Linked DNA regions of Homo sapiens. The protein of the gene in region 5 purifies or fractionates together with the protein of the main gene of each other region. This does not show direct contact. Each region holds a gene or a part of one and is shown on either strand. Other genes may lie near its edges.

Region 1 (3,948 bases), on a different chromosome or scaffold from region 5:
TGGTTCCCACCTCGGTGAGCTGGTGGTCGGGCCCATACAGCCAGAGGACCTGTTCACAGCCCCGCTTGAGTGCCTCCTGTTGCACTAACACGGTGGGCCCATAATTCCTGGTGGAGGGCAGTCTGGTTGGGTGGGGCAAGGGAGCCCCATCCTTCCCCAGCCCAGCCCCAGAGGAGGCTCATCCTACTCTCTCCCGTCTCCCTGCTCACAGCTCTCACAGGGCTCCCCAGTTCCCCTGAGATGGAATCCTTGACTTTTCATTTGGCATCAGGACCCTAAATGGTTATGTCCCCTCTCTCCTGTCTCTTCCCACTTTTCTTTCTTTTCTTTTCTTTTTTTTTTAAGACGGAGTCTCGCTCTGTCACCCAGGCTGGAGTGCAGTGGTGCGATCTTGGCTCACTGCAACCTCCGCCTCCCAGGTTCAAGAGATTCTCCTGCCTCAGCCTCTCTTGACCTGGTGATCTGCCCGCCTCAGCCTCCCAAAGTGCTGGGATTACAGGCGTGAGCCACCGCGCCCAGCCCTCACCCATTTCATACTGACCAAATCCTCAGCTGTCATTCAAAACCATTTCTTTTTTTCTTTTTTTCTTTTTTTTTTTTTTGAGACAGAGTCTTGCTCTGTCGCCCAGGCTGAGGCTAGAGTGCAGTGGTGCGATCTCAGCTCACTGCAACCTCCGCCTCTCGGGTCCAAGCGATTCTCGTGCCTCAGCCTCCTGAGTAACTGGAGTAACTGGGGCATGCAGCACCATGTCCGGCTAATTTATATTCACATTTATATTTATATGCCCGCCTCAGCCCCCCAAAGTGCTGGGATTACAAGAGTGAGCCACAGCGCCCGGCCTTACTTTTTATATTTTTAGTAGAGACGGGGTTTCACCATGTTGGCCAGGCTGGTCTCAAACTCCTGACCTCAAGTGATCCGCCTACCTCGGCCTCCCAAAGTGCTGGGATTACAAGCGTGAGCTACCGCGCCTGGCTCCAAAACCGTTTCTGTTGTCACCTCCTCGAGAGGTGTTTCCAGACCTCCAGGCTGGGTGCTGGACCTTCCCTGGACTCCCCCAGTGAACTGGGCTACCTGGATGACTTTCTGAGTCTCTCTCCCAGAGATAGCCTCTCCCCTCAGCTGCTAACAAGCCTCCCATGGCTCCCCAGTGCCCCAGGACAAGACCCTAGCCTCCTTCCGGCATTCCAGGCCTGCCTGGGTCTAATGAATACTTGCTAAGCATTTTTCAAAACCCAAACTTATTTTTGTAACCTGAACATCTTCTGTGATCCTATTCCTTCTGTCCCTGTACACATGGTTCCCAGGACTGGAAACAGTTTGCTGACTTTTGTACCCAGGAAACCCCCTCCTCCCTCCTCGTCAGACCTAGTTGAAGGGTCGCCTCCTCTGCGAAACCTTTCTTTTTTTTTTTTGAGATGGAGTTTCGCTCTGTCGCCCAGGCTGGAGTGCAGTGGCGCGATCTCGGCTCACTGCAAGCTCTGTCTCCTGGGTTCTCGCCATTGTCCTGCCTCAGCCTCCTGAGTAGCTGCGACTACAGGCGCCCGCCACCAAGCCCGGCTAATTTTTTTTTTTTTTTTTTGTATTTTTAGTAGAGATGGGGTTTCACTGTGTTAATCAGGATGGTCTCGATCTCCTGACCTCGTGATCTGCCCGCCTCAGCCTCCCAAAGTGCTGGGATTACAGGCGTGAGCCACCGCCTCTGGCCTCTGTGAAGGCTTTCACAATGCCCTGGGTCACCTCACCAGAGAACATGCAGCTCCGAATACTGGGGCTCCCACCAGCCTGGGAGACCCAGGAGAGCAGGGCTCGGGGCTGACTCATCTGTGTCCCCAGCTTCTGCCAGCACAGGGCCTGGCCCTCAGGAGACCTCACAGGATGTGGCTGAAAGGACCTGAATGCACCCCCAGCTGGGGCCACATTCCTGTCCCAACACGCCAGTGCCCACCCTCTGCCTTGGTTGCCCAGGAGACCCAGCTGTCTCCTTCCTGCCCTGCTGAGCTGAGGCCACTGGGAGACAGATTTACACAGAAAGTCCACACGGGGGTGAGGGGCTTTGGAGGCTCAAACGACTGTGGGAGCTGGGTATGGGGAGCGCAGCCCAGCCTGGGGGATCAGGGGAGGCTTCTGGGGCGAGAAGCCAATGAGCTGAGTGTAAGCTTCACTCCTGGAGGCTTCCAGGGACCAGTCCTGGTTTCCCCACTGACCTCCACCCAATGCCTTCCCATCTGTGAGCCTTTTTGTCCATCTGAAAAATAATCCCCTCCTCCTTCCTTCCATGGTTTGTTTTCAGGGACCAGGGAGGTCACTTAGCACTGAGCCCTGCACGGTGCTGATGATGTCACCTTCATGTGACATCCAGAGGCATGGCCGAAAGCACGCACGCTGGTCCCTGTGTCTCCAACGCCCAGTGCGCCAGTCGTTCTGGGGATGGGGGTGCTACTTACCCACCTAACTTGTAGTTGCCGACCCCGCCCACCCAGGCCCGGATGAAGGCTGGGTCGGCCAGGAGGGAGACCGGGGTCACGGAGCCTCCAGGGAAGTAGGCACCCACTGGGCAGAGAATGACGAACAGGAGCGCGCGCGTGGGCTGGCTGACACCCAGCGAGGGCTGCGACGGGCAAAGGGACAGCGTCAGGAGTCCAGGCCCCCAGTCCCTTCCCGTCCCCAGGCCCAGGCCTCCAGGACCCCACCCCTGCCCTGCAGAATCCAACCCCCGCAGCCCAGCTTCCCAGCCCTGGAGTTGGGCCCACCTCGTTCCCAATGAGCACAGGCCGCACATAGAGGCTGGTGCCGGCGGCATCGGGGACCCAGTCCTTGTCCACTTCGATGAGCCGGCGGATGCACTCCAGCAACTCCAGCTTGTCGAAACTCTGGGTGGGATTCTGAATGAGTCAAGGGGCCCTTGCTGCCCCGGCCCCAGCCCTCCTCCCCACCCCGGTGGACCGGGACCCCTCACCGGCAGGCACAGGCGCATGGCTGAGCGCAGCATCCGGTCCATGTTGAGCCAGGGGCGGAAGAGGCGCACCTGCTGGTCTTTGCCTTTGAACGCCTTCATGCCCTCAAACAGCTGCGGGGACACGCGGGTGGGGAGGCTCAGAGACTTCTCCAGACAGTCATGAGAGACACCAAGACAGACAGAGACAGATACACAAAGACACAGACAACTGAAAGATGGAGGCCAAGAGGAGAGCACCGGGGAGATTTAGCAGCTGGGTCAGAGAGATGGAGAAAAAGAGAGACAGATATAGACAGGGAGACAAACAGGTAGAGACACACGGAGACTCTAGAAAGCAAAGGACACGACCGGGCTCAGTGGCTCACTGTAATCCCAGCACTTTGGGAGGCCGAGGCAGGAGGATCACTTGAGTGTAGGAGTTCGTGACCAGCCCAGGCATTATAGCAAGACCCCATCTCTACCAAAAAATACGAAAATTAGCCAGACGTGGTAGCACGTGACTGGAGTCCCAGGTATTTGGAAGGTGGTGGGAGGATCACTTGAGCCTGGGAGTTTGAGACTGCAGTGAGCCACGATCATGCCACTGCACTCCAGCCTGGGACCTAGTTTTTTTTTTCTGGAGACTCTGTCCCTGATCACTGCCCCATGGTTCCAAGTTTGCTTGTTCAGCATCTGCTCCACTGCAGAGTGGAAGAGCCTGGAAGGCAGGGATTACCCTTGACACGTTTACCAGACAGCCTCTCCTGCAGTCCCATGCACCAGGGTAGGCAGCGCTTGGCACAGAGTGTTTTTTTGTTTTGTTTTGTTTTGTTTTGTTTTGAGACAGGGTCTCACTCTGTCACCCAGGCTGGAGTGCAGTGGCGTGATCTCTGCTGATTGCAACCTCCGCCTCCCAGGTCCAAGTGATTCTTGTGCCTCGGCCTCCTGGGTAGCTGGGATTACAGGCGCCCACCACCACGCCCAGCTAATTTTTGTATTTTTAGTTGAT
Region 2 (4,215 bases), on a different chromosome or scaffold from region 5:
GTCACAAATGGGCATGAGAAAACTTTTTAGTGTGTTGGAAATGTTATAAAACCTCTTGTGGTGATAGCGGAAAAACTATATAACTCACTAAAAAAAAAAAAAAAAAAAAATTTTAAATGAAAAAATAAAACCAGGAAAAAGTATGTCTTAAAAAGAGCAGATTATCATCTCAAAATTATTTTCAAAAGACAATTTGAAAAAAATAGGATCTGCCCTTTTACTGGTCTTTAAAACGCATGTTAAGAAACAAAAACATGTAAAAGGGCCAGGCGTGGGGGCTCACGCCTGTAATCCCAGCACTTTGGGAGGCTCAGGAGGGTGAATCCCTTGAGAGCAGGAGTTTGAGACCAGCCTCACCAACATGGTGAAATCCCGTCTCTATTAAAAGTACAAAAATTAGCCGGGCATGGTGGCATGCTCCGTAATTCCAGCTACTCGAGAGGCTGAGGCAGGAGAATCGCTTGAACCCGGGAGACAGAGGCTGCAGTGAGCCAAGATCGCACCACTGCACTCCAGCCTAGGCAATAGAACAAGACTCCATCTCAAAAAAAAAAGAAACATGTGAAATGTTCTGGGATGGGTTTTTATCCTAAGAGAGCCACAATCTTAAGCTAAGCTATTTAGGAATCTTTCTGATTAGTACTTTCACCCACACGTTTGAAAAAGTAATTATGTGTACTAAATGAGAATACCTAATTTAATAAAATTCATGAAAGCAATGTTTCAGTTCACTAGCCACTGTGGATATTACAAATATAAAGGACATCTGCACTCAGGCTGTCTTCTCTCAACCTTGAATATCCTTCCCTACATTCCTCCTAGTCAAGTTTTACCATAGATCAAGATCTAGTTCTAGGCCAGGCATGGTGGCTCACGCCTATAATCCTACCACTTTGGGAGGCCAAGGCAGGAGGACTGCTTCAGGCCAGGAGTTTGGGACCAGCATGGGCAATGGGAGGAGAACGCACCTCTAAAAAAAAATTAAAAATTAGCCAGGTGTGGTGGTGCATGTCTGTAATCCCAGCTACTCAGGAGGCTGAAGCAGGAGGATTGCTTGAGCCAAGGAGACGGAGGCTGCAGCGAGCTCTGACCACACCATTGCACTCCAGCCTGGGTGACTGAATGCGATCCTTTTTCAAAAAAAAAAAAAAAAACAACAACAACAAAGAACTACATAAGTTCCCCCAACTACTCCAGTCAATGCTGACTTTTTCTTCAAAGAGTTATGATCTGCATCACACTCACAAGACACCTTGGTGTTGTCTCCTTTTTCCTTTCTCTTTTTTTACTTCAAATTCTTACAGGACACTGTAAGCAATCAAGAGTGGTGCCTTATCATCTCTGTAGTACTCAGCATAGTGCTTCACACACTGGCAGGTACTCAGCAGGTTGGTTCAGGCATAAATACTTACTTATAAGGTGCTCTCTTCCTTGCTGCCACACTTGTTAATAAGGATGACTGAAACCAACCCCCGAGCTGGTCTTTTCCTTCCAAGTACAAATCTGCTCTTTGGTCAGGACCTCAAAATTAAGTATTAAAAGAAAAAAAAACCCAGAAATTTAAGTTAATTAAAATAGAAAAAGAAGATACTTATTAATAACAATTAGTGGGGAGGAAGGGAAGTAACTTTACAATAGAGAAAACTGACAGATGCCACCTTAACCAAGAAAGTGACCAAAGTTACACATCACCAGTAGTAATGGGACAGAGATGTATCACGTGACTTCTGAAATGATGTACTGAAATAAACACAGTATCCTTTCTGTGATATTCCTACCTAAAATGCATAACGTGGATCTAATCATGACAATGCATCCCACAAACCCAGAGAGACCATCTACAAAATAAACCTGTACTGCATGAATGTCAAGCAATGTCATGAAATGTCATGAAAGACACAGAACAAGAACTAGAGAGACATGACAGTTAAATGTGACATGTGATCTCAGATTAGATCTTGGGTCCTTTTTTTTTTTTCCTCTTTCCACCTAGGAATAAGTTCTATAGACAGTTAACAGTATGGAATCAATGTTAATTCCCTAATTTTGATATCTGTGTTGGTTATGTTAAGAGACTATCCATGTTTTGGGGAAATATATACTAAAATATTGAGATAAAAGATGCATCTTTTCCTCTACATATATATACATAGGATATATAAAGCAACTGTAGCAAAATGTTAATGTTAACGTTGGGAAATCTAGATGAAGAGCATGCTGTAATTCTTCATGATACTTTATGACTTTTCAAAATAAAAGGGTTTTCAAAAAAAAGTAACATGAGGTCGTTGATAAAGATTACATCTATATTTTAAATCTAAACTCACAACTCTCAAAGCCCCCATAATCCCTTTTATTTGTAAAATTATGATTTGTCCTTATGTCCTAAGACTGAAAATTTAGTGTTGTAATCTTCATGTAAGAAAGATTAACTGAGTGGAGGTGGGGAAACAAAATTTAAATAACTGAATCAAACCAATTCAATTGCACCAATATTACTGAGCACTTGTTATATAGCAGGCATTGTGTTAGACCCTGGGGAAATCTGGACTCTGCCTTCTTGGAGCTGACACCTAGTAGGGTAGATTTTATGTTAAGCAAGAAATAACTGTGATGGGGCCGGGTGCAGTGTCTCGTGCCTGTAACCCCAGCCCTTTGAGAGGTGGAGGCTGGCAAATCCTGAGGTCAGGAGTTCGAGACCAGGTTGACCAACATGGCGAAACCCCATCTCTAAAAACACGAAAATTATCTGGGCACGGTGGTGGGCGCCTGTAATCCCAGCTACTTGGGAGGCTGAAGCAGGAGAATCACTTGAACCTGGGAGGTGGAGGTTACAGTGGGCAGAGATTGTGCCACTGCACTCTAGCCTGGGCGACAGAGTAAGAATCTGTCTCAAAAAAAAAAAAGAAAAGAAATAACTGTGATGGGTGTTACCAAGGGGAAAATAAAGAGTTTAATCTAGTCTGTGCAGCCAGGAAAGTCTGAGATAATGTAAGAAGGTAAATGCATATGCAGTGAAAACAAATCTTTAGCTAGACTAAGAAAATAGAAAAGAAGATCCAAATAAACAAAATCAGAAATGAAAAAGGAGACATGGGGCTGGGTGCGGTGGCTCACGCCTGTAAAATCCCAGAACTTTGGGAGGCAAAGGCGGGTGGATCACGAGGTCAGGAGTTCAAGACCAGCCTGGCCAAGATGGTGAAACCCCATCTCTACTAAAAACGCAAACATTAGCCAGGCATGGTGGCGGGCACCTGTAACCCCAGCTACTTGGGAGGAATGAGGCAGAGAACTGCTTGAACCTGGGAGGTGGAGTTTGCAGTGAGATGAGATCAGGCCACTGCACTCCAGTCTGGGCAACAGAGCAAGACTCCATCTCAAAAAAAAAAAAAAAAAAGAGAGAGAAAGGTGACATACAACAGACAACAGAGAAATACAAAGGATCATCACAGACTACTATAAACAAATGTACACTAACACATAGGAAAACCTGGAGGAAATGGATAAACCCCTGGACACATACAACCTACCAAGATTAAACCGGGAAGAAATAGAACAGTAAGGAGTAACCGGACTGAATAAGTAACAAAAAATCTCCCAACAAAGAAAAGTCTAGGACCAGATGGCTTTACTGCTGAATTCTACCAAATATATAAAGAACAACAATTCTGCTCAAACTACTCCAGAGCATCGAAGAGGAGGAAACTCTTCTTAAATCACTGTACAAAGCCAGCATTACCCTGATACCAAAACCAGGCAAAGACACAACAAAAAAGAAAACTACAGGCCAGTATCTCTGTTGAACAAAGACACAAAAATCCTCAACAGGCCACTTGCGGTAGCTCATGCCTGTAATACCAACACTTTGGGAGGCCAAGGCAGGTGGATCATGAGGTCAGGAGATCGAGACCATCCTGGCTAACATGGTGAAACCCGTCTCTACTAAAAATACAAAAAATTAGCCAGGCATGGTGGTGGATGCCTGTAGTCGCAGCTACTCGGGAGGCTGAGGCAGGAGAATTGCTTGAACCTAGGAGGCGGGGGTTGCAGTGAGCTGAGATCGTGCCATTGCACTCCAGCCTAGGCAACAGAGTGAGACTCCATCTCAAAAAAAAAAAAAAAAAAAAAATTCAACGTGGCCAGGCATCGTGGCTCATGCCTGTAATCCCAGCACTTTGGGAGGCTGAGCAGCGCTGATCCCTTGAGGTCAGGAGT
Region 3 (4,215 bases), on a different chromosome or scaffold from region 5:
TGGTGCAGTCTCAGCTCACTGCAGCCTCTGCCTCCCAGGTTCAAGCGATTTTCATGCCTCAGTTTTCCACGTAGCTGAGATCACAGGCATGCGCCACCATGCCCTGCTAATTTTTGTATTTTTAGTAAAGACAAGGTTTCACCATGTTGCCCAGGCTTGTCTTGAACTCCTGACCTCAAGCGATCCCCCTGCCTCAGCCTCCCAAAGTGCTGGGATTACAGGCGTAAGCCATCACGCCTGGCCCTAATTCCAATTTATTACATTGTTTTACTTAACTATCTGGTCCTTTAGAAGAGATGCATGAAGTCTGGCAGCCTGTTGTAAATTTGCATATATTAGCATGTAAATACATAAAATAATCATTTTCTATTTTGTTTTGTGAGGCTAGAAGGTCCAGCTTAAAAAATGTGTCCGACCTTTTTGTGATGGGAGGAGCTCTTGTTTTAGAATCTGCAGCTCTCTTGCACTGGCTAGAGAGGGAAGGTTACGGCCCTTTAGGAATGACTGGAATATCCATGGGAGGACACGTAAGCCTTTTTATTTCTGCTTACATTTAATTATGTTTATGTTTGTAAGATCTAGAGAACCTGGTTATTTTAAAAATTCACTTTAGGTATAGAATTAGTTTTAGTAAAAGTAGGAAGCAGAAACAGATTCCAAACTCTTACTCCAATTATGAAGTAATGATGTTAATTTTTTGTACGATTTATTGATTGTACTACTCCACAGTTGTATCTCAGATATTAGATTTAACAGAAATTAATTATAAAATTTAACTTTTCAAGTCTCAAGTATAAATGCCCAATTTTGCTGTTACATTGGTGAAGATAGCTGAATTGGAAAATACTTTCCATTTATCTGTCTCCCTAGTACCACTAACCTATTTTACTTTTTGTCTGCCTTTTAGAGTGTACTAAAATGGATTCCTAATTGCTTTCTCTGTCTCTAGTCTTTTCTCTTATTAATCTTTGTCTTAACCATTTCTCCTCCACACCCTAACTACAGTGATCTTTCTAAATCTAGTCTTTGTTCTGTCTTGTTCAAAACCTGCCAAAAGCTTGCGTGCACACTGGGCTCCAGCTGTGTCACGTGCTAGCATCTCTCTAGTGCTCCCTTATTCTCTTTCACCTAGGAGTAACAGCTTACCCTTCTGTTTCAGCTGTGACACCCAGCCTTACCTCCAGACTATACTTCAAACTCTGATTAGTAACTTTTTACTGTACTTTACTGACTTGTTTAGCAGTCTGTTTTCTCCATGAAGCATTTGAGATATTGAGGGCCAGGAATATGCTCTGGTTTATTACTTGGCACATATTAGTCACTCAGTACATTTTTAAAAAATTATTAGTATTTTGTTTGTGTGTGGGCTCAAGTGATCCACACAGTTTGGCCTCCCAAAGTGCTGGGATTATAGGTGTGGGCCACTGCACCTGGCCTAAAAAATAATAATACCCCAACCTAGGCAACATAGTAGTAAGACCCACCCTGTCTCTACAAAAAAAATTGTTTAAAAAATTAGCCAGGCATGGTGGCACATCTCTGTAGTTGTGGCTACATGGGAGGTTGAGGTGGGAGGATCACTTGAGCCCCAGAATTTGAGACTGCAGTGAGCTGTGATCATACCACTGCACTCCTGATTAGGTGACCCAGACAGAAGCGAGATTCTATCTCAAAGTAATAATTATTATTATATGAAGTTTCTGTATGCCTCTTGAATTAGAAAATTAAGCTCAAAAACTTACTCAAATTCAAAACTATGCTGGGCACGGTGGTTCACACCTGTAATCCCAGCACTTTGGGAGGCCGAGGCGGGCAGATCACCTGAGGTCAGGAGTTCAAGACCAGCCTGACCAACATGGTGAAACCCCGTCTCTACTAAAAATACAAAAACTAGCCGGGTGTGGTGGCACGTGCCTGTAATCCCAGCTACTCAGGAGGCTGAGGCAGGAGAATCGCCTGAACCCAGGAAGCGGAGGTTGCAGTGAGCTGAGATCGCACCACTGCACTCTAGCGTGAGCAACAGAGTGAGACTACATCTCAAAAAAAAAAAAAAAAAAAATTCAAAACAACTACCTGACAGTGAAACAAAAGATGGAAAAGGATTTATTTTCCTACCTAGTAGTGTTTCCATTGTTATCACCTAGGTCAGGTCCTTATAACTTTCACCTGGATTACTGCCTATTAACTGGTCTCCTACCTCAGTTCTCCCCTTCTCTATTCAATCCTGTAAACTACTATCATGTTACCTTCTTTGAATCACTTCTTTGACAATACTACTCCTTTGCTCAGACCTCTTTATTAATTCCCGATTATCTATAGAACAAAGGACCTCTAATCTGATCTTGATCAATCTTTCTAGCCCTACTTACCTCCCTCACTCCATTGGCCATGTGTGCCTATTGACCATCCCAACTGAAGTATATTGGCTGTTTCCCTATGAGACCCTGTGCATTCTCACAGTCTTGCCTTTGATCATACTGATTCTTTCTCTGGAAGACAAGACCCTATCTTTCATTCCTCTAGAAGACTCATCCATTTCATGAAGCCTGCCTTTCCCTTCTGATTCCTCCAGCCCAGAAGGGAAAGTAACTTTTTGAAAAGATAAAGTTTTCCCTTCTCCAAAAGGGAGAGTGATTTTACCTTCTCTAATCACACACATTACATTATTTTAGATCTATTATATAATCTGCTTTGTAGTTCACCAAATTCTTGGCATACTCAGTCAACCTCAATGGTCTGATGTTTTATAGTTGTGATTTTGCTCTATCTGGCAAGTCACTTAAGTAATGAGTGTGTTTACCCTGCTGCCCAGCATCTACATCTCAGCATCTTTGCTCCATATTTACACAGTAGAAAGTAGCTCTCAGCGAATGGTCTTGAGGTTAAAGTTTTGTATTACATTTTATTGCTATCTAAGGGGGAAATTAAATGTTGAATTTATGATTTGGGGAATTTAATGAGGTGGCTAGACATTCTCACGAATGTTTGCAGACTTTGTGTTTATCTGACCAACTATTTACTGCACGGAATGCTTATTAATATTAAATATTTTTATTTTAATGAATAGAAACTCTAAATAGACGCTCTCTATCTGTTATATTACAGATGGCTTCCTTAGCGGTATCCAACTGGCCTAAGCCCATGCCATTGATTCCATGCCTGTCTTGGTCCACAGCATCTGGGGTCTTCACTACGGTAATTTAATTGTAATTAATATTAGGTAGCTATATATAATTAGAGGTAATTGTTTTGGGGGGGTCCCCAAAACCACCCTCAGCTTTGGTGATTCAAAGAAAGAATTATAGGACTCAGGATATAGTCGTAATCATGATTAAGCCTTAACTACAGCAAAAGATACAACACAGTCAACAGAAGGAAAAAGCGCATGAGGTAGAGTCCAAAGGAAACCAAGAACAAGCTTCCAAGAGTCCTCTCCTAGTGGAGTGTTACAGTTCATGCTTAATTCTTCCAACAATAATTATTGACAATAAGTGCAAAGTGCTGTCCATCAGTGAAGCTCCCCTGAGCCTTGCAGTCCAGAGTTTTTATCAGGGGTTAGTGACTTAGATAACTTCTGCCTAGCATGCACCAAAAATTCAGAAGGAAAGCAGGTGTTCAGCAGAAACCGCATTGTTTATATAAGCAGTTTAGGTACAGTGACCCACTCTTATCATTTAGGAAAAGTTTTATATAAGTATAGAAAGCTGTTTACTGGTCAAGTTCCCAGACTCCAGTTAAGGGCCAACCTTACAAGCAGGCTAAAGATAGGAAGTCTTAGGCCAGGTGCGGTGGCTCACGCCTGTAATCCCAGCACTTTGGGAGGCTGAGGCTGGTGAACCACCTGAGGTCAGGAGTTCAAGACCAGCCTGGCCAACATGGTGAAACTCTGTCTCTACTAAAAATACAAAAATTAGCTGGGCGTGGTGGCACATGCCTGTAGTCTCAGCTACTTGGGAGGCGGAGGCAGGAGAATTGCTTGAACCCAGAAGGTGGAGGTTGCAGTGAGCCGAGATAGTGCCATTGCACTCCAGCCTGGGCAACAGAGTGAGACTTCGTCTGCAAAAAAAAAAAAAAAAGGTAGTCTCACACAGTAATAATAATAAAAGTATTGGGCAAATTGCCTTATGATGTGGTTTGATCTTAATTTAGCTTATTATTTCAGGGTGTGTTGAGTAAATCAATTAATTGGAGGGAGCTGGAAAAGCAATATTATAC
Region 4 (4,215 bases), on a different chromosome or scaffold from region 5:
GCAGGGAGGCTGCAAGGCCATTCCTCCATGGCGTCCGCCTTGCCTTTGCTGGAGGGTTCCTGGACTCCGGAGTCGCAGGCGCTCCTTTCCTCCCTCTGTGCCTGTTCTCAGACTCTGATTCAAAGCAGGAGCCCCGAGCACCCTTCACTGCCCCGTGGGCTCTTTTCCTTAAGTATTTTCAAGTTTAATTCAAGTCCTTGTTGGCTTCATTTTTCATATTAATAAGGCATTTATTAACAAACCCATTCATGATGTGCAAATCTGAAGGCTTTAAACTACGGTGAACTGTTATTTTACAGAGAGGGTGTTTTTGGTGCTAATTGGAGCATTGTTACAGTCATTTATTCTTTTAAGTTTATTTTTAAGCGTATTATTTTTTATCAGTGGTATTAAGTGCATTTATAGGGTTATGCAGCCAGCACCACTATTTTCAAATATTTTGGTTACCTGAAAATGAAACTCTGTAAATACAAAGAGTCACTCCCCCAGCCTCCTACACCCCTCGTTCCACTTTCTGTCTGTGAATTCGATGACTGTAACTGCCTCCTCCAAGTGGACTCACAGTACTTGGCCTTTTGTGACTGGCTGATGTCACCGATCGTGATGTCCTCAAGGTTCGTCTGTGTTGTCCTGAGTGTCAGAATTTTATTCCTTTTTAAGGCTGATCACCCCGTTGTGTGTACAGACCACATCCTGTCTTGTCCATTCATCTGGATGGACACTTGTGTTTTTTATTCTTGGGTTGTTTGTCCACAGTGGAGTGGCCTCCTTGGGACACACCCTGAGCTGGGTCCTAGAGCAGCCAGTCGCCTGTGGACAGTGCTGTGGGAGGCAGGCTGACCTTGGGGTGCAGGGGTGGGTCCAGGAGGGAGGTGGGGGACTGCGTGGAAGGAGCAGCTCAGGTCTGACCTCCGCAGTCTGACAGTGCCTTTCCAGTCCTGGGGAGTTAGGTTCTGGTGCATTTGTTGAAGAATCTCAGTCTCTGTGTGGCTTGGAAAGTGCCCTTGCTGTGAGCTGGTTTGTGACTGAAAGTGAAACAAATTATAGCCTTGGGAAGCTCATCTGGCTTTTAGTTTCCATTTTGGCCAGATATGTTTGTTACATAGTCTCCCTGCTTGGCTGGTAAGTTGTGTTTGTTACATAGTCTCCCTGCTTGGCTGGTCAGATGTGTTTGTTACATACGTCTCCCTACTTGTTCTGCAGCTTCTGTGTTTAGTATACATTTGAGCCTCCTTTTCTCCTTTTCCTACAGGGAAAGCCACCAGGGTGGGTGGCGAGCCTGGGATCACCAGAGCTGTGATGTCCAAAATTCAGGTGGAGTCCTCAGGGGCCAGGCCCAGCACTCTGTCAAGAGCTCTGCAGGCGTCTGGCACCTGCCGACCTCTGTGTGGCTTCCGGCTGCTGACCACGCTTCCCTCCCCTCCACTCAGTGTCCCCGCTGAGCACCCCCGGGGCAGGCACTGCCCCTGCCCTTATTCCACAGTCGTCATAGTCTTTGCGCCAAACCTTTGGGGAAGGCACGCTGTTTTCCCCATTTCCAGATGAGGAGGCCACTGTCCAGGGCCATGCAGTGGTCAGGACAGACCTGAGTGTGGCGCCCCCCGCCCCACCCTCCACTCCCTTCCTTGTGTTCTCCTTGGGAGCAGAAGACAAGCTGTTGGGACCTGACGCTTTTATTTATTCTCCAAATTAAGTGGGAATTAGATCCTCTGGGGAACCCTGGAGCTTGGTGAGAGTGACGCTGCCATGGGGTTGGGTCCCTGAGGCCTTCCTCGGAGCATTGGGTGCCAGGGGCTGCCCAGGCTTCCTGAGTGGCCCACCTGGGTGGGAGGCTGCCACCGCGGCCTGATCATGCCCTCTGTGCCCACACAGGTCTCTGAGCGGCCCCTGATGTTCCTGTTGGACACTCCTGGCGTGCTGGCTCCTCGGATTGAAAGTGTGGAGACAGGCCTGAAGCTGGCCCTGTGTGGTGAGCCGGGGCTGGGGCTGGGGCTGGGGCTGGGACCGGGGCCCCTGCCACCCCACCTTTAGGGCTGGCTTTGGCACAGGGCCCCTAGACGGGAGTTGTTACTGCCTTTGACCTGGTTGCTGCCAGACCTTCCTCGAAGCTTAGTGTGAGAGCTGTAATAGTGCACAGCTGACAGGCACTGGTCACCATTCCACCCTGCCCCATGAGTGGCCTTCCCTTTCCCCATTTGACGGACCAGGGCAGAGAGGTTGGTCGCAGGTGCCAGGCAGGAGTGGGGGCCGGGACCACAGCCGAGTGCCGTCCTCTTGGTTAGTGTCTTTGTCAGTGGCTGGCCTCTTCCTCACGGCACGGTGTCTTTGGGCTAGGACTGGAAGGGATGTGTTTGAACTTGGCAGGAACATAGATGTGGCTGTTTCCAGTGCTCACCTCGGCTGCTGCTTCCACAGGAACGGTGCTGGACCACCTGGTCGGGGAGGAGACCATGGCTGACTACCTGCTGTACACCCTCAACAAACACCAGCGCTTTGGGTGAGTGCAGTGAATGCAGGGCAGCTGGGGCCCCTCCTCCTAGTCACCTCATTTAAAAAAAAAAAACAAACAAAAAAACCCCCAGCATTATAAAGGTATTATAAACACGGTAACCTGCACATCGTTTAAAGCGTCCAGTTGGACAAGTTCGGGAGTATGGCTATACGTCTGTGAAAGCAACACACAATCAAGAAAACGAGCGTTCCCGTCACCCCCAGTCCCTGCTCCTCTTTCGTGAAATCAAGGAAACGAGCGTTCCCGTCACCCCCCATCCCTGCTCCTCCTTCGTGAAATCAAGGAAACGAGCGTTCCCGTCACCCCCAGTCCCTGCTCCTCCTTCGTGAAATCAAGGAAACGAGCGTTCCCGTCACCCCCAGTCCCTGCTCCTCCTTCGTGAAATCAAGGAAACGAGCGTTCCCGTCACCCCCAGTCCCTGCTCCTCCTTCGTGAAATCAAGGAAACGAGCGTTCCCGTCACCCCCAGTCCCTGCTCCTCCTTCGTGAAATCAAGGAAACGAGCGTTCCCGTCACCCCCAGTCCCTGCTCCTCCTTCGTGAAATCAAGGAAATGAGCGTTCCCGTCACCCCCAGTCCCTGCTCCTCCTTCGTGAAATCAAGGAAATGAGCGTTCCCGTCACCCCCAGTCCCTGTGCTCCTTCGTGATCACACCTTCCTGCCCCTCCCTGAGCCCAGGCAGCCGTCTACTGTCCCTGTAGGTTGCTTTGGGTTTTCTAGAATTCCACGTAGATGGAATCACACAGGATGTGCATTCTTGTTGATCTGTCACTCGGCACGATTGTTGTGTGATCCCCGTGTGTCGTCGTGTGTTGTCCGTCATTCATCCTTTTTGTTGCCAGGCGGTTTCAGTGTCCAGGTGCGCTGCAGTCTGTCCCTTCACCCGTTGATGGATATGTGGGTTGTTTGCAGGTTTTGGCTATTGCAGATAAAGCTGCTGTGAACATTCATGTACCGACAGGTCTTTGTGTAGATCCGGGCTTTCGTTTCCCTTGGGTTAATACCTAGGAGTAGAGTGGCTGGATCATAGGGGAGGCATATGTTTGAGTTTTTAAGAAACCGCCACATTGTTTTCCAAGGTAGTTACACTGTTTTATATGCTGGCAAGCAGGGAATGAGTCCTTCAGTTTCTCTAAGATCAGTCTTTAACTTTGGCCTGTCTGATGGGCGGGCGTGTAGGGGTGTCGCATAGCATTTCAATTTGCATTTCCCTGATGACAGGGACGTTGAGCATCTTCATGTGCTTATTTGTCATCCCTCTCTGGGGAAATGTCTGTTCAAATCCTTTTCCCTTTTTTTTTTTTTAACTGAGTTGTTTCTTTCCTTATTGCTAAGTTTTAATCTTTTTTTTTTTTTTTTTTTTGAGACAGGGTCTCAGTTACCCAGGCTGAAGTGCAGTGGTACAGTCTCAGCTCACTGCAGCCTGACCTCCTGGGCTCAAGCGATCCTCCCACTTCAGCCTCCCAAGTAGCTGAGACTACAGGCGTGTGCCACCACACATAGCTGATTTTTGTATTTTTTGTAGAGACAGGGTTTCCCCATGTTGCCCAGGCTGGTCTTGAACTCCTGGGCTCAAGGGATCTGCCCGCCTCAGCCTCCCAAAGCATTAGGATTATAGGCATGAGGCACCATGCCCAGCCTGTAACCTTTTTCTAATATATTCTGGATACAAGTCCTTAATCAGAGATACGGTTTGTAAATACTT
Region 5 (4,215 bases):
ACCAGTCTGGGCAACATGGTCAAACCTTGTTTCTACAAAAAATAAAAACAACAATTAGCCGGGCATGGTGGTGTGCAGAGCTGTCGTCCCAGCTACTCAGGAGGCTAAGGTGAGAGGATCGCCTGAGCTCAAGAAACTGAGGCTGCAGTGAGCCAAGACTGCACCTCTGCACTCCACCCTGGGCCACAGAGTAACACCCTTTTTCAAAAAAAAAGTTACCATTTTCTGTAATAGGAAAATAAGAGGAGCATCCTAAATATCCAGCCATAGGTGACTGGCTTAGTGTGAACAGTCCTTAACTAAGTGGACTGGTCTTTATAGTCTTTATGTGGAAAATGTGAAAGACTCTTTAGGACAAAATACCAAGTGGAAAGAACAGGAATATACAGTCGTGTCCATGTGATGATTTAACTCTGTAGAAGTTGTGGATCTGCGTGATTCTGCATTGGGAGGGATGAAAGAAATGAAAAGCCATTTGACAAGGTGATAGCAACCTAAACAAACAGGCTTTTAAAGAAAAGGATGTTTATTTGGGATAGAGCATTGCAGTGAAAATACATGCCACATGCCATAGTAGACTGTGTGGATATTCGCATATTCAGGGAGGTAAAGGAAGGCAAGGGTTTTGTTTTTTTTTTTTTTTTTGAGACGGAGGCTTGCTCTGTCACCCAGGCTGGAGTGCAATGGCACAATCTCGGCTCACTGCAACCTCCACCTCTCAGGTCCAAGCGATTCTCCTGCTTCAGCCTCCCGAGTAGCTGGGATTACAGGCGCCCACCACCACATCTGGCTAATTTTTTTTTTTTTGTATTTTTAGTAAAGTTGGGGTTTCACCATGTTGGCCAAGCTGGTCTAGAACTCCTGACCTCAGGTGATCTACCCGCCTCTGCCTTCCAAAGTGCTGGGATTACAGGCGTGAGCCACTGAGCCCCGCCTGGCAAAGGTTTTTAAAGGAAAAAAACATAATTGTTTTGAGATAATGATCCTTGGTTGCAAAGATCAATAACAAGATTAATGTCCGTCCAAGGTTAGACAGGCAGTTGCTGGGCAGATTATCCTTGCAGAAGTTTCTGTGTGCGTGTAAGGTTGTCATAGCCTTTGTGCAAGGTTGCAGTTTTGTGTGTGTGTAAGGTTGTCATAGCCTTTGTGCAAGGTTGCAGTTTCGTGTGTGTGTGTAAGGTTGTCATAGCCTTTGTGCAAGGTTGCAGTTTTGTATGTGTGTAAGGTTGTCATAGCCTTTGTTGCAGTTTTTGCCATCTTTAGTGACAGTTTTTGTTATCAGGCATGGAAGTATGAGAATCCTCTCTTCATAGCTTTCCCCAGCTCTATTTGTCAGGTTTTTTGGTTTGTTTGTATAACCCTAATGGCTCCATTTTTATTCTGACAAATTCCTTTTTTTTTTTGAGACGGAGTCTTGCTCTGTCAGCCAGGCTGAAGTGCAATGGCGCAGTCTAGGGGCTCACTGCAACCTCCGCCTCCCAGGTTCAAGCGATTCTCCTGCCTCAGCCTCCCGAGTAGCTGGGGTTACAGGCATGTGCCATCACACCTGGCTAATTTTTGTATTTTTAGTAGAGATGGGGTTTCACCATGTTGGTCAGGCTGGTGTCAAACCCCTGACCTCTTGATCTGCCCGCCTCGGCCTCCCAAAGTGCTGGGATTACAGCTGTGAGCCACCACGCCTGGCTATTCTGACAATTTTCACAATGGAAACAATTTAGGGCACTTGTGTACGGTTGGCTGGGCAACCCACCCGCCACAGGCCCAGCTGCCACTCTGGCCTGAGACATGCATCTTAAGAGTGATTTGGGTGGCTGGCACAGTGGCTCACGCCTGTAATCCCAGCACTCTGGGAGGCTGAGGCAGGCAGATCACCTGAGGTCAGGAGTTCGAGACCAGCCTGACCCATATGATGAAACCCCATCTCTACTAAAAAATACAAAAATTAGGCCAGACGCGGTGGCTCACGCCTGTAATCCCAGCACTTTCGGAGGCCAAGGCGGGTGGATCACCTGAGGTTGGGAGTTTGAGACCAGCCTGACCAACACGGAGAAACCCAGTCTCTACTAAAAATACAAAATTAGCCGGGCGTGGTGGCGCATGCCTGTAGTCCCAGCTACTCGGGAGGCTGAGGCAGGAGAATTGCTTGAACCCAGGAGGCGGACACTCCAGCCTGGGCAACAAGAGGGAAACTCTGTCTCAGGAAAAAAAAAAAAAAAAGAAATACAAAAATTAGCTGGGCACGGTGGCATGCACCTGTAATCCCAGCTACTCAGGAGGCTGAGACAGGAGAATCACTTGAACCCGGGAGGCAGAGGTTGCAGTGAGCCGAGATCGCGCCATTCCACTGCAGCCTGGGCAACAAGAGTGAAACTCCGTCTCAAAAAAAAAAAAAAAAAAAGTGATTTGGCTCAGAGATAAGTGCTTATTTGCCTTGGGATTAACCAGGATGAAACCTGTCAACCTGTGGTTGGGTTACGTTTCCTGTTCTCTAAGTCTACATTTCCTCATTTTTTAGCATCTGAAAGCAGGTGAATTTCCCCAGCCTGATTTTCCAGATGACTACAATTTGGGAGACATTTTCCTAGGAGTGGAGTATATCTTCCATCAGTGTAAAGAAAATGAAGATTACAATGACGTCCTGACTGTAAGCGGGGATGCTGAAATCATATAACCTGGCTCATGGAACATGGGCCTTGCAAAGGGGTCAAGATCACAACCCTGCATCCATGTGTGTCCGTGGGTACCGTAAGGGCTACTGGGGGAAGAACCTGTAAGCAGGGTGTGAGGAGCACCCAGGCTGGGTAGGGACTGCATGCCCCATGCCACAGTTGAAGGAGGGAGAGAACACGCTGTGAAAACACAGAAGCTCCCAGAGAAGCCTTCTCAGCTTTTATCTCTGGAGTAGAGCAGACTATGTTGAGCTAACACAGACCTGCTGAATCAGCTTCTTTCTGAGCTGCCAGAAGTACAGAAGTTGGAGCCTCCACCACCTTCCAGATCTGTTTCTCCTCAGTGTAATCCACCTATGGGTTCTTCCTGCCCACTGCACAGACAAAACCAATTCACTGCAATTGTGGTATTGCAGTAGAGAAAGAGTTTAACACAGAGCTAGCCAAGCAGAAAGGCTGGAGTTATTATTCAACTCAATCTCCCAGAGAACTCAGAGGCTACAGTTTCTACAGGCAATTTGGCAGGCAGGGGCTAGGGAATGCCTGCTGCTGATCGGCTGCAGACGGACCATGGGGTGTCAACGATTTTTGTCCCCTGAGTCCGCCTCTGCGTGGAGCCACGGGATCAGCTGAGTCATGAGTCTCAGGTCCAGGTGGAGTCTGTAGGTTGCCAGAACTCAAAAGTCTGAAAAACATCCCAAAAGACCATTCTTAGGTTGTACTATTGACGTTATCTTATTGGGGAGCAATTGGGGCGGTCACAAATCTCGTGACCTCTGGCTGCGTGAGTCCTGAGCAGTAGGGAATTACAGCAGGGCAAGCTGGGGAAGCAAGGCCTGCGGGCTGGTTCTCCTCAGGACACCTACATCTGAGCAGAATTCAGGCCCCTCCCATCATCCTAATCTTGTGGCCCTTCACAAGCTTCACAGAGGTGGCTTCGGTCTTGAGCAAGGAGGGGATTCGTTTTAGGGAGGGATGATTACTATTCTTGATTTAAAGTTAAACTCTAGATTAAATTCCTCCCGTGGTTAGCTTGGCCTGTGCCCGGGACTGAGTGGGGACAGCCACGCAAGTTAAACTCTAGATTAAATTCCTCCCGCGGTTAGCCTGACCCGTGCCCGGGACTCAGTGGGGACAGCCACGCAAGTTAAACTCTAGATTAAATTCCTCCCGCGGTTAGCCTGACCCGTGCCCGGGACTCAGTGGGGACAGCCACGCAAGTTAGACTCTAGATTAAATTCCTCCCGCGGTTAGCCTGACCCGTGCCCGGGACTCAGTGGAGTCAGCCACACAAGTTAAACTCTAGATTAAATTCCTCCCGCGGTTAGCCTGACCCGTGCCCGGGACTCAGTGGAGTCAGCCACGCAAGTTAAACTCTAGATTAAATTCCTCCCGCGGTTAGCCTGACCCGTGCCCGGGACTCAGTGGGGACAGCCACACAAGTTAGACTCTAGATTAAATTCCTCCCGCGGTTAGCCTGACCCGTGCCCGGGACTCAGTGGGGACAGCCACACAAGTTAAACTCTAGATTAAATTCCTCCCGCGG
Region 6 (4,215 bases), on a different chromosome or scaffold from region 5:
ACAGCAACTGAAACTAGGGCCAGTATCCGCGAGTCATTCAAGTTTTCCCAGTTAGCCTGAGTGATGGAACTGTAATTCAGAGATTTACACGCACATATTTTAAACACATAAAGGCTAACATCAAAGAACCTTAACTTGACTAGATTCAAATTAGTTACTCTTGTTTTGGGTGCTTGGTTAAAATCTTTAGTGGGAGGAGGCTAATACAACTGGTTAACTTGAGGTTTAGAGTTTTTCTGGCTTTGGGAGGAGGCACAATCAATGTGGGCAAGGGAAAGTTGGGGGTAGGTATTAAAAAATACAAGCTGTTGAATAAATGGTAGCTGTTATTAGCTTTGGTGCTTTCAATTATGTCCAACTCCAAAATGAACACAGACAAATGGAAAACTAGGAAGACAACACACATTTTAACATTTTTTTCCTCTCCTCTTTAGCCTTGCTTAACAGCCCGAAGAGAAACTTTTCCAAATGCCCAGAACCTGCAACAGAAGACAACAGTCAAACTCCAGCCTCACCTTTTTGTACAGCTCCCAAGAGCCTCATTAGAGAGAAGTTGGAGGTTGTAAGTCCGGCAGGGGGTTCCAAACTCCTTATATGAGTTGAGCTTCGTTCCAACAAAGAAACTATGGTTCCAAACAGAAGTCACTGTCATTGTTTACCGAAACGTACCCCCTTCCCTAACATCCAGTGCCGAAGGATCCACGGCTAAGCCTCAGGAAGAGCATATTCTAAACAGGTGCATTAAAGATTTCTGCATTGGACTGCAGCTAAGTGTTGAAAGTCAAATCAATTACAGGTTGAAAAAATGTTTTTCAAAAGGCCAAGGGACCCCTGAAAATCAGGGCGTCTACTTGTTTTTTGGTCTGCTGAGTACCCTGGCCAGGTGATTGATGCGCATGTGCTTCATGAAGTGAGTCTCTTACATCATCTTTTTGTTTTTGACACAGTCTCACTCTCTCGCCCAGGCTGGAGTGCAGTGGCATGATCTTGGCTCACTGCAACCTCTACCTCCTGGGTTCGAGTGATTCTCCTGCCTCAGCCTCCCGAGTAGCTGGGATTACAGGCACACGCCATCACGCCAGGCTAATTTTTGTTATTTAGTAGAGACGGGGTTTCGCCACTTTGGCCAGGCTGGTCTTGAACTCCTGACCTCATGTGTTCTGCCCGCCCCAGCCTCCCAAACTGCTGGGATTATAGGCATGAACCACTGCGCCTGGCCTCTTTTACATATTCTATCATCTGCTAAACATGTCAGCTAAAAGCGTGACTTTCTCCTTTTATGATTGTGACTTGCCCACAGTCAACATGCCTGTTCTATCACCCTATCGCTATTATTGGCCAGCAAACATTTCCTATTTATGTTCAGTGCATGAATAACTTAAGCAGAACCAGAAAAGAGGGCTTATGCAGGCCGGGCGCGGTGGCTCACGCCTGTAATCCCAGCACTTTGGGAGGCTGAGGTGGGTGGATCACGACGTCAGGAGATTGAGACCATCCTGGCTAACACTGTAAAACCCCGTCTCTACTAAAAAACAGAAAAAATTAGCCGGGCGTGGTGGCGGGCGCTTGTAGTCCCAGCTACACGGGAGACTGAGGCAGGAGAATGGCGTGAACCCAGGAGGCGGAGCTTGCAGTGAGCAGAGATCGCTACACTGCACTCCAGCCTGGGCAACAGAGCAAGACTCTGCCTCAAAAACAAAAAAAAGAGGGCTTATGCTCCTTAATCACATTTCTCCTGTACATGGTTTTCTCCATGTTTTATGACAGGTAATCTCTACTACTGATAGTTCTCTAGTCTTGGTTTGGTTCATCAAGATAAAGAAGAAATTAAACACCGACAACAGGTTTAGCAAGTGTGGTAAAAGTTGCTGTGGATGTAAAAATATCCAAATGATCATTAAAGAACAATGAAAAGAATCATGCTGGCTTCCAAGAAATTGCACAGAAGATAATTCTCTTGCAAGGTGAAGGTTAGTCTCTTAAAAAAAAAACCCATTCATCTTGGAAAAAATTTGAGGAAAACGGTGTAAAGAGACAACTTCCTGAAAATTGCAACCATGTTGTCAGCAGTGTCAGGATCACGTGGCTCCCTGACCTTGCCCTGCTTTCTCCAGTCAGGTGAGCCTACTGTCCTGACCTGCAGTTAATTCAGTAACTGTTAGCTCACTGGCCCTGCCTTTTAAGTACCAAAGGAATGAGTTGGCTTCCTGAGAAGGGCAAATGACCTATCAAAGGTCTTGCCTGAGTGAGAAAAGGTATAGCCCATTCTCTTGTGCAAAGATTCCAATAAAACTCTAATTTGCAGTCATTGGAGACAGTCATTGCCTGGTGAAATTACAAAGCTTTTTAAGGAGCCAATGGCACCATCTTTTAATCCCTATAGATTGATATGGCCTTGAAGTCCTTGGCCAATGGAGGGATCAGGGCTTGACCTGATCCTAGGGTCTCTCTCCTCTAGTATCTTGTGTTCATTTGGTGGTAACATCAAAGTCTGAACACTGATCCTGGATCCAACTTCAATAGTTTTTCAGTTTATAATAGAAGTAGAGGCCCTATGATGATTACACCTTATTTACTGTCTTGATGTAGAAGTCCCAAACTAAGTACAACATTTATTAGTTACAGACTATGAGCAATAAAAGGGATTAAAATAGTTTCTCACCACTATTTGGAAGGAACTTGTTACTGAAGAAAAAATTCTATTTTCCCTCCTATATCCTGTCTCATAACCTTGGTAATTTAATGTTTTAAGTTACTGTATCTTATTATTGTATTCTTAGGAGCTAACAGTGAAATGTATCAATAACATATCAAACAAGGTATTGACTTCTATCTGTGGTCTTTAAACTCTACTTGAGGCTTACTGTTTGGGAGAGTTAGTAGTTAATACCTCCAGGTTCACCTGACTCTTCTATCTGTGGTCTTTAAACTCAACTTGAGGTTCACTGTTTGGAATAGTTAGTAGAGTCAGACGAACCTGGGTTTGAATCCTGATTCTGTCACTTACTGCATGAACATAGGGAAGTCACTTAATGTCTGAAGCTCAGGCCAGGCCTGGTGGCTCACACCTGTAATCCCAGCACTTTGGGAGGCCAAGGCGGGAGGATCACCTGAGGTCAGGAGTTCGAGACCAGCCTGGCCAACATGGCAAAACCCCATCTCTACTTAAAAAAAAAAAAAATTAGCTGGGCGTGGTGGCAGGCACCTGTAATCCCAGCTACTCTGGAGCCTGAAGCAGGAGAATCGCTTGAACCTGGGAGGTGGAGGTTGCAGTGAGCCGTGATTGTGCCATTGCACTCCAGCCTGGGAGACAGAGCAAGACTCTGTCTCAAGAAAAAAAAAAAAAGATGTCTGAAGCTCAGATTCCTCAAGAGGAATAAGAGGGTGGGACAGTGGTGTCACTCAGAGCTGTTATGAGGATTAAATGACATAATGTATCTAGCATAACGATAGTCATAGTCATCACAGATAAACGTCAGGTCCCTCACTTTTTCCTCTAAAATGAAAAGTGTGTATCAAGGACACTCCTAAGCACTATAAAATGTAGTACAGAAAATACACAAGTCCTTCAATTTGGTAGAGAGATTTATCATGGGGGGAGTGTGTGCATCTGCAACTGAAAAACACAGAAGGCTGGACACGGTGGTTCACACCTGTAATCCCAGCACTTTGGGAGGTTGAGGCGGGCAGATCACCTGAGGTCACGAGTTCAAGACCAGCCTGACCAACACGGAGAAACCCCATCTCTACTAAAAATACAAAATTAGCCGGGCGTGGTGGCGCATACCTGTATCCCAGCTACTTGGGAGGCTGAGGCAGGAGAATCGCTTGAACCCAGGAGGCAGAGGTGAGCCAAGATCACACCACTGCACTCCAACCTGGGCAATGAGCAAAACTCTGTCTCAAAAAACAAACAAACAAAAAAACAAAACACACACACACACAGAAAAGTATGGCACTATAACAAACATGGTTTTAGTTATGGTGTATTTTCTACAACATGGTTTAGTGGAAAAGATTAAACTAGGCCTCAGGAAACTAGGTTCTCCTTGCAGCTCTACTATTTATTGGCAACACAAACTTGGACAAATCACTTATGCTCTCTGTGCCTGTTTCATCATCCACAAAATAGGATAAATTCACTCTGCCCACCTCTCTGTCCACCTTGTGCCCAAAATAAAAAAAATACAGATGGAGGCACTCTGAAAACCACAA
Region 7 (4,891 bases), on a different chromosome or scaffold from region 5:
AAATAAAAAAAAAGTACCTACTGCCAAGTGGCTGGAGAACATTTTATTCTGCTAAAGGGATTAAATATCCCCCACAAAAATTAAAAAGTCCTCACATCCATCCCCAAACTCATTGCTTACGCAGGACTTTCCTTGGAAGTATCAAAATCAAATATACTTCTATCTAACTTTGAGATTCTTCAACATCCATGTGGGAGTGGCAGGACTCTGTGTGGCCTGAGGGTGGCCTTGAGTGTGTGTCCGAGTGGAAGGCCCAGGATCTGGGGACTGACCTGGGGTCAAATGGCACAGCCAACTTTTTTTTTGAGACAGAGTCTTGCTCTGTTGCCAGGCTGGAGTGCAGTGGCACAATCTTGGCTCACTGAAACCTCTGCCTCCTGGGTTCAAGTGATTCTCCTGCCTCAGCCTCCCAAGTAGCTGGGATTACAGGTGCCCACCACCACACCTGGCTAATGTTTGTATTTGTAGTAGAGACAGGGTTTCGCTATGTTGGCCAGGCTGGTCTGGAATTCCTGACCTCAGGTGATCCTCCCGCCTTGGTCTCCCAAAGTTCTGGGATTACAGGCGTGAGCCACCACACCCAGCCAGCACAGCCAACTTCTAATGAGGCCACCTTAGACAAGTTACTTACTGTCTCTAAGCCTCCGTGTTCTCATCCATGAAATGGGTTTAATCACTCAGATTTGTTGAGATGATTAAAAAGGAAAATACCTGCAAGGCAATAGCACCATGCTAACACAGAGCTGGCTAGTCAGTTCCGGTGCTGGTTTGTCCTCTCTCACGCTCCGATTGCGAGGCCCCTTGCTTTTCCTTTCGCCTCCAGCAGCAGTGTATTCCCCCGGGGAGGCTGCCTTCAGTTGCAGGCTTCTTTGCACTGTTTCGTATGTCCTTTTCCCAGGCACCCGAGCAAGGGCCACTGGTTATGACACAGGCACTGAGGAGGAGCCTTGAATCAAGGGCAGAGCTCTGACTTTAAACTTTGACTCCCCAGGTGTGACCTATAGCCAGTCGTTGTCTGATCTGTGCCCCACTTTCTCATGTCCAAAATGAGAAGACTGAACCAGTCCTCTCCAATGCCTTTCGTATGGCTTTAAGATGAGGTATGTACCTCTCACTTGGAGGAGGGGCTGGCAAAACCACTTGAATTTTAATTTGAATTGAGGCATATTGGCAGAGGTTGTAAAATGTCCTCACATGGTTCAAGGAAGATGATGATGCCCTGCCTGCTCCTGGTGCCCCTTTCAGAGAGGTTAAAAGCCTTTCCATTATTTTAACTTTTTTTTTTTTTTTTTTTTTGAGACAGGGTCACGCTCTGTTGCACAGGCTTAAGTGCAGTGGCGCGATCTCGGCTCACTGCAACCTTCGCCTCCTGGGTTCAAGTGATTCTCGTGCCTCAGCCTCCCAAGTAGCTGGGATTACAGGCATGTAATCACGCCCAGCTAATTTTTTTGTATTTTTTAGTAGAGACAAGGTTTCGCCATGTTAGCCAGGCTGGTCTCGAACCCGTAACGTCAGGAGATTCACCTCCCTCAGCCTCTCAAAGTGCTGGGATTACAGGCATGAGCCACCGCGCCCGGGCTCTGGTTCTATTTTCATGATGCTATTTACAAGAGTAGGTGGAGCGCTCCTTCTATGGAACTTTTCATTTGGTAAATTGTGTGACTGTGGAAGTAAACCATGTCTGAAAGCTTAGGTATCTTCTTTCCGGCCTCAATTTCCTCTCTTCCTCTAAAAGCGAACTTCTTTCGCCTAGTTTGACCCTCGAGGCTTCCCATTTCTTTTGCCCCCCCCCTCCCCCCCGACGCATGCGCGAAAACGCGCTGACCTTTCAGCTTCGCGCTAGTGCTGTTTTTTTTTTTTTTTTTTTTTTAGCAATGGCGGTTCCCGGCGTGGGGCTCTTGACCCGTTTGAACCTGTGTGCCCGGAGAAGAACTCGAGTCCAGCGGCCTATCGTCAGGCTTTTGAGTTGCCCAGGAACTGTGGCCAAAGACCTTAGGAGAGACGAGCAGCCTTCAGGGAGCGTGGAGACAGGTGATGGCGCCGGTTTGCCCTGTAGTTCCGTCCCACAGCGGGCGAGGAGTCTGGGATCACGGGGAAACACGTGGCCTGTGGAAACGGCTGTGGACCCTTTGGCAAGAGGGTGGGGCTGTGTCCTGTCCTCTCCTCTCCTCTGATCTCTGTAGGGGAACCCAGGGTCGCCGCCGTTGCTGAGGCAGAAGTGAGATGTGTGATGTTTGTTTGGGGCGACTCCTGTGTACAGTAATGGAGTTGTTTAGACTTCCATGAAATTCAGGTCAGGAACCCAGTTTGCTTGCACTTTACAGTTTGACGAAATAGTGTTCCCAATGATAGTAATGCTACACACCTGAGCCAGTCGCTGCATCGTGTACGTATATTTCTGATTTTGATACATTAAGTTGTTGCTGGAGGCCGAGTTATATTGTAGCCTGATGAATCAAGAGGATTCTTGGTTCCTAGACATAGGGTTCTGTCTATGAAATGTACTGCCGTTTACTTTATTCTTTTTGGCCATTTTGAACCAAATCAGTCTGGTAACAGATTTGGATTCACTGCAACAGGCTGTTGTCCCGCGTTCGTTCTACATTTATATGCTTCTTTGTGTATTGAGAAGCCAGTGTTATTGAACCTCTCTTGTGACTCAAGAGCTTGTGTATTCTATTTACAGTTCTTAAAACGATCTTGCAAGAAATGTATCACTGTGTCCATTTTACAGATGTAGAAAATGGTTCAAAGAGGTAAATAACTTAGGCAAGGTCACTAGCTCAGTTAATTTAGACTTCTAGTCAAATTATTAAACAAAATGTATTGACTTCTACGATTCCTTGGAGCTATTTTTTCCCTAAAATAAGCTGGTGTCTTTATCAGACTGTATAAAAGACTTACATTGGCAGGCAGTGAGAAATCTTTATGTATTTCATTCAAATATTGATTGGATTGTATTTAGTGGAAGCTACTTCTGTTGAACATTTCTAAGTAACGCTGAAAATTTGAGTAAGGATTCTGCCAAAAAAGCTATTGTAATTTAACATTTGTATGGGTGTTTAAATTTGAGAGTATGTTCATATGCTCTTTGATATATGAAACAACCCTGTAGCGTAGGTGTGGAAGGAAATAACTGTTACTCCATTTTATAGATGAGGGAACAGGGTAGTCCAAGGGTAGCTTGAGTAGTTCAAGCTAAACTCAGCTATTCGGTGGCAAAAATTAAAAAACCCACTGTTTTTTTTTTTTCTTTTTCGGGACGAAGTCTTGCTCTGTCACCCAGGCTGGAGTGCAATGGCACGATCTTGGCTCACGGCAACCTTGGCCTCCCGGGTTTAAGTGATTCTCCTGCCTCAGCCTCCCGAGTAGCTGGGATTACAGGCACGTGGCACCACGCCTGGCTAATTTTTGTGTTATTAGTAGAGATGGGGTTTCACCATGTTGGCCAGGCTGATCTTGAACTCCAGACTCAGGTGATCTGCCTGCCTTGGCCTCCCAAAGTGCTGGGATTACAGGCGTGAGCCACCGCGCCCAGCCAGTAAAACTCACTTCTAATTCCAAGACTATACTCTTCATTTACTGTAGCTTTGCTATTTTTCTTTTTTAAGGAAATGTTTCATTTTGTGTCATTAGAATAATACGACTAAATATTCAGGGATTCTTGCAGGAAATAACAAAATCCTCATTTGGATGTCTTTACCATTTTAAAGAAGGACAGTTAAGTACACCTTATACTCACCTAGAAGCATGTGATTTTATAATTGGAAGGAACTTGAGAAATATCCAATTCAGTTTTTCATTCAGTGTGAGGATTCATTACCAGTTTATAGCAATAAGGAACATTGTTGCATAAATCAGTCAATTCCATTTTTGGTCAGCCTCTAATGGTTGAAAAATATTTATAGTGAGCTAAAATCTGTTAATTTCCCATTTCCAGGTTGGTCTTAGTTTTGACATAGGTTTCATGTTAGTAGTGGAAAGAGCTGTAGTAGAAAGACAATAAGAGTACATGGTGTATTATTCGGGATTCTTTCTGATACAGGTAACAGAAACTAACTCAAAATAGCTTAAGTAGAAAAGGGAGACTATACCAATCTGTGTAACCAAACTCCAGAAAGAGACATATATCATACTTTAAGGTCAATTGGTTTGACGTGGTCAGTGTGAGATATTTTCATTTTCCTTAGCTGTTTTTTGGTGGCCTTATAATCTTGGGCTCTTCTACATGGGATGTTGATGATGGGGGTGATGGTCACCAGCAGCTCCACGTTCACATGCTTGCGGCTTCCGATTGATCACATGCCCACCCTTTGGATGAAGAGGAGGTGTCCAAAATAGTCTGATAATCCCTATCTCATGGGGTGGGGGATAAGTGTGACAGTTCCACCACAACCACATAGAGTGGTTTTTTACTAGCAGGGGTGTGCTGTTACCAGAACTGTTACCTGAACAGGTTTAGCTGTTGTTTGGATGCCAGCAGCCAAACCAACAACAGCTAAACTGCAGGAGGCTACCCAGCTTATTAGGTATTTGACTTTGGGCAGTTTTTTTCACCTGCAGTGATACCTACCCTGTCTATCTTAAAAGGTTATTGTGAATTTCAGAAGAGTGTGTATGTGACAGTGCTTGGAAAACTATTAAGAGAAGGTGCTATATTATGTTTAAAGCCAGTGCTCAGCTCTCAGATTCTTACAGTTTTTTTTTTCCAGGCTGTAAATCCTCTCTTTATCTGTAGTAATTGTATATTAGAGTTTCTAGACTTTTTGTTATTCCTCTCTGGATGCTCTCTGGCTTATCTATTATGTCCAGAGTAGAACATGTACTCCATATGTGGCCTGATTAGTAAGTACCAAAGAAGTGTTATTACCCCTTAAATTTGGATTTTTAA

The links.
Region 1: the proteins of YBEY (region 5) and BCAT2 purify together in Homo sapiens (co-immunoprecipitation; 3 studies listed by BioGRID and IntAct, with this or other methods). This does not show direct contact.
Region 2: the proteins of YBEY (region 5) and IARS2 purify together in Homo sapiens (affinity purification with mass spectrometry; 2 studies listed by BioGRID and IntAct, with this or other methods). This does not show direct contact.
Region 3: the proteins of YBEY (region 5) and ABHD18 purify together in Homo sapiens (affinity purification with mass spectrometry; 2 studies listed by BioGRID and IntAct, with this or other methods). This does not show direct contact.
Region 4: the proteins of YBEY (region 5) and MTG1 purify together in Homo sapiens (affinity purification with mass spectrometry; 2 studies listed by BioGRID and IntAct, with this or other methods). This does not show direct contact.
Region 6: the proteins of YBEY (region 5) and MTNAP1 purify together in Homo sapiens (affinity purification with mass spectrometry; 2 studies listed by BioGRID and IntAct, with this or other methods). This does not show direct contact.
Region 7: the proteins of YBEY (region 5) and MTPAP purify together in Homo sapiens (affinity purification with mass spectrometry; 2 studies listed by BioGRID and IntAct, with this or other methods). This does not show direct contact.

Annotation. Positions count from the first base shown.
Region 1 is NC_000019.10:48,797,227-48,801,174, forward strand, and holds part of BCAT2 (branched-chain-amino-acid aminotransferase, mitochondrial isoform a precursor), read right to left. Parts: intron 3,072-3,948; coding exon 2,961-3,071; intron 2,875-2,960; coding exon 2,755-2,874; intron 2,613-2,754; coding exon 2,449-2,612; intron 108-2,448; coding exon 1-107. UniProt on the Homo sapiens protein: Catalyzes the first reaction in the catabolism of the essential branched chain amino acids leucine, isoleucine, and valine. May also function as a transporter of branched chain alpha-keto acids.
Region 2 is NC_000001.11:220,131,708-220,135,922, reverse strand, and holds part of IARS2 (isoleucine--tRNA ligase, mitochondrial precursor), read right to left. Parts: intron 1,522-4,215; coding exon 1,413-1,521; intron 1-1,412.
Region 3 is NC_000004.12:128,016,975-128,021,189, forward strand, and holds part of ABHD18 (protein ABHD18), read left to right. Parts: intron 1-388; coding exon 389-527; intron 528-3,105; coding exon 3,106-3,195; intron 3,196-4,162; coding exon 4,163-4,215.
Region 4 is NC_000010.11:133,400,277-133,404,491, forward strand, and holds part of MTG1 (mitochondrial ribosome-associated GTPase 1), read left to right. Parts: intron 1-1,252; coding exon 1,253-1,314; intron 1,315-1,872; coding exon 1,873-1,969; intron 1,970-2,415; coding exon 2,416-2,497; intron 2,498-4,215. UniProt on the Homo sapiens protein: Plays a role in the regulation of the mitochondrial ribosome assembly and of translational activity. Displays mitochondrial GTPase activity.
Region 5 is NC_000021.9:46,288,819-46,293,033, forward strand, and holds part of YBEY (endoribonuclease YbeY), read left to right. Parts: intron 1-2,515; coding exon 2,516-2,644; coding exon of another isoform or gene 2,645-2,671; exon of another isoform or gene 2,672-3,700; intron 3,701-4,215. UniProt on the Homo sapiens protein: Single strand-specific metallo-endoribonuclease involved in rRNA maturation.
Region 6 is NC_000017.11:73,238,652-73,242,866, reverse strand, and holds part of MTNAP1 (mitochondrial nucleoid-associated protein 1), read right to left. Parts: intron 767-4,215; exon of another isoform or gene 624-766; coding exon 516-623; exon of another isoform or gene 445-515; coding exon of another isoform or gene 435-444; intron 1-434. Other genes in the region: CPSF4L (putative cleavage and polyadenylation specificity factor subunit 4-like protein), read left to right, coding at 435-444. UniProt on the Homo sapiens protein: Critical regulator of mitochondrial DNA (mtDNA) abundance. Binds dsDNA throughout the mitochondrial genome without sequence specificity and controls mtDNA copy number by promoting its replication.
Region 7 is NC_000010.11:30,346,259-30,351,149, reverse strand, and holds the start of MTPAP (poly(A) RNA polymerase, mitochondrial precursor), read left to right. Parts: upstream 1-1,871; 5' UTR 1,872-1,874; coding exon 1,875-2,031; intron 2,032-4,891. UniProt on the Homo sapiens protein: Polymerase that creates the 3' poly(A) tail of mitochondrial transcripts. Can use all four nucleotides, but has higher activity with ATP and UTP (in vitro). Plays a role in replication-dependent histone mRNA degradation.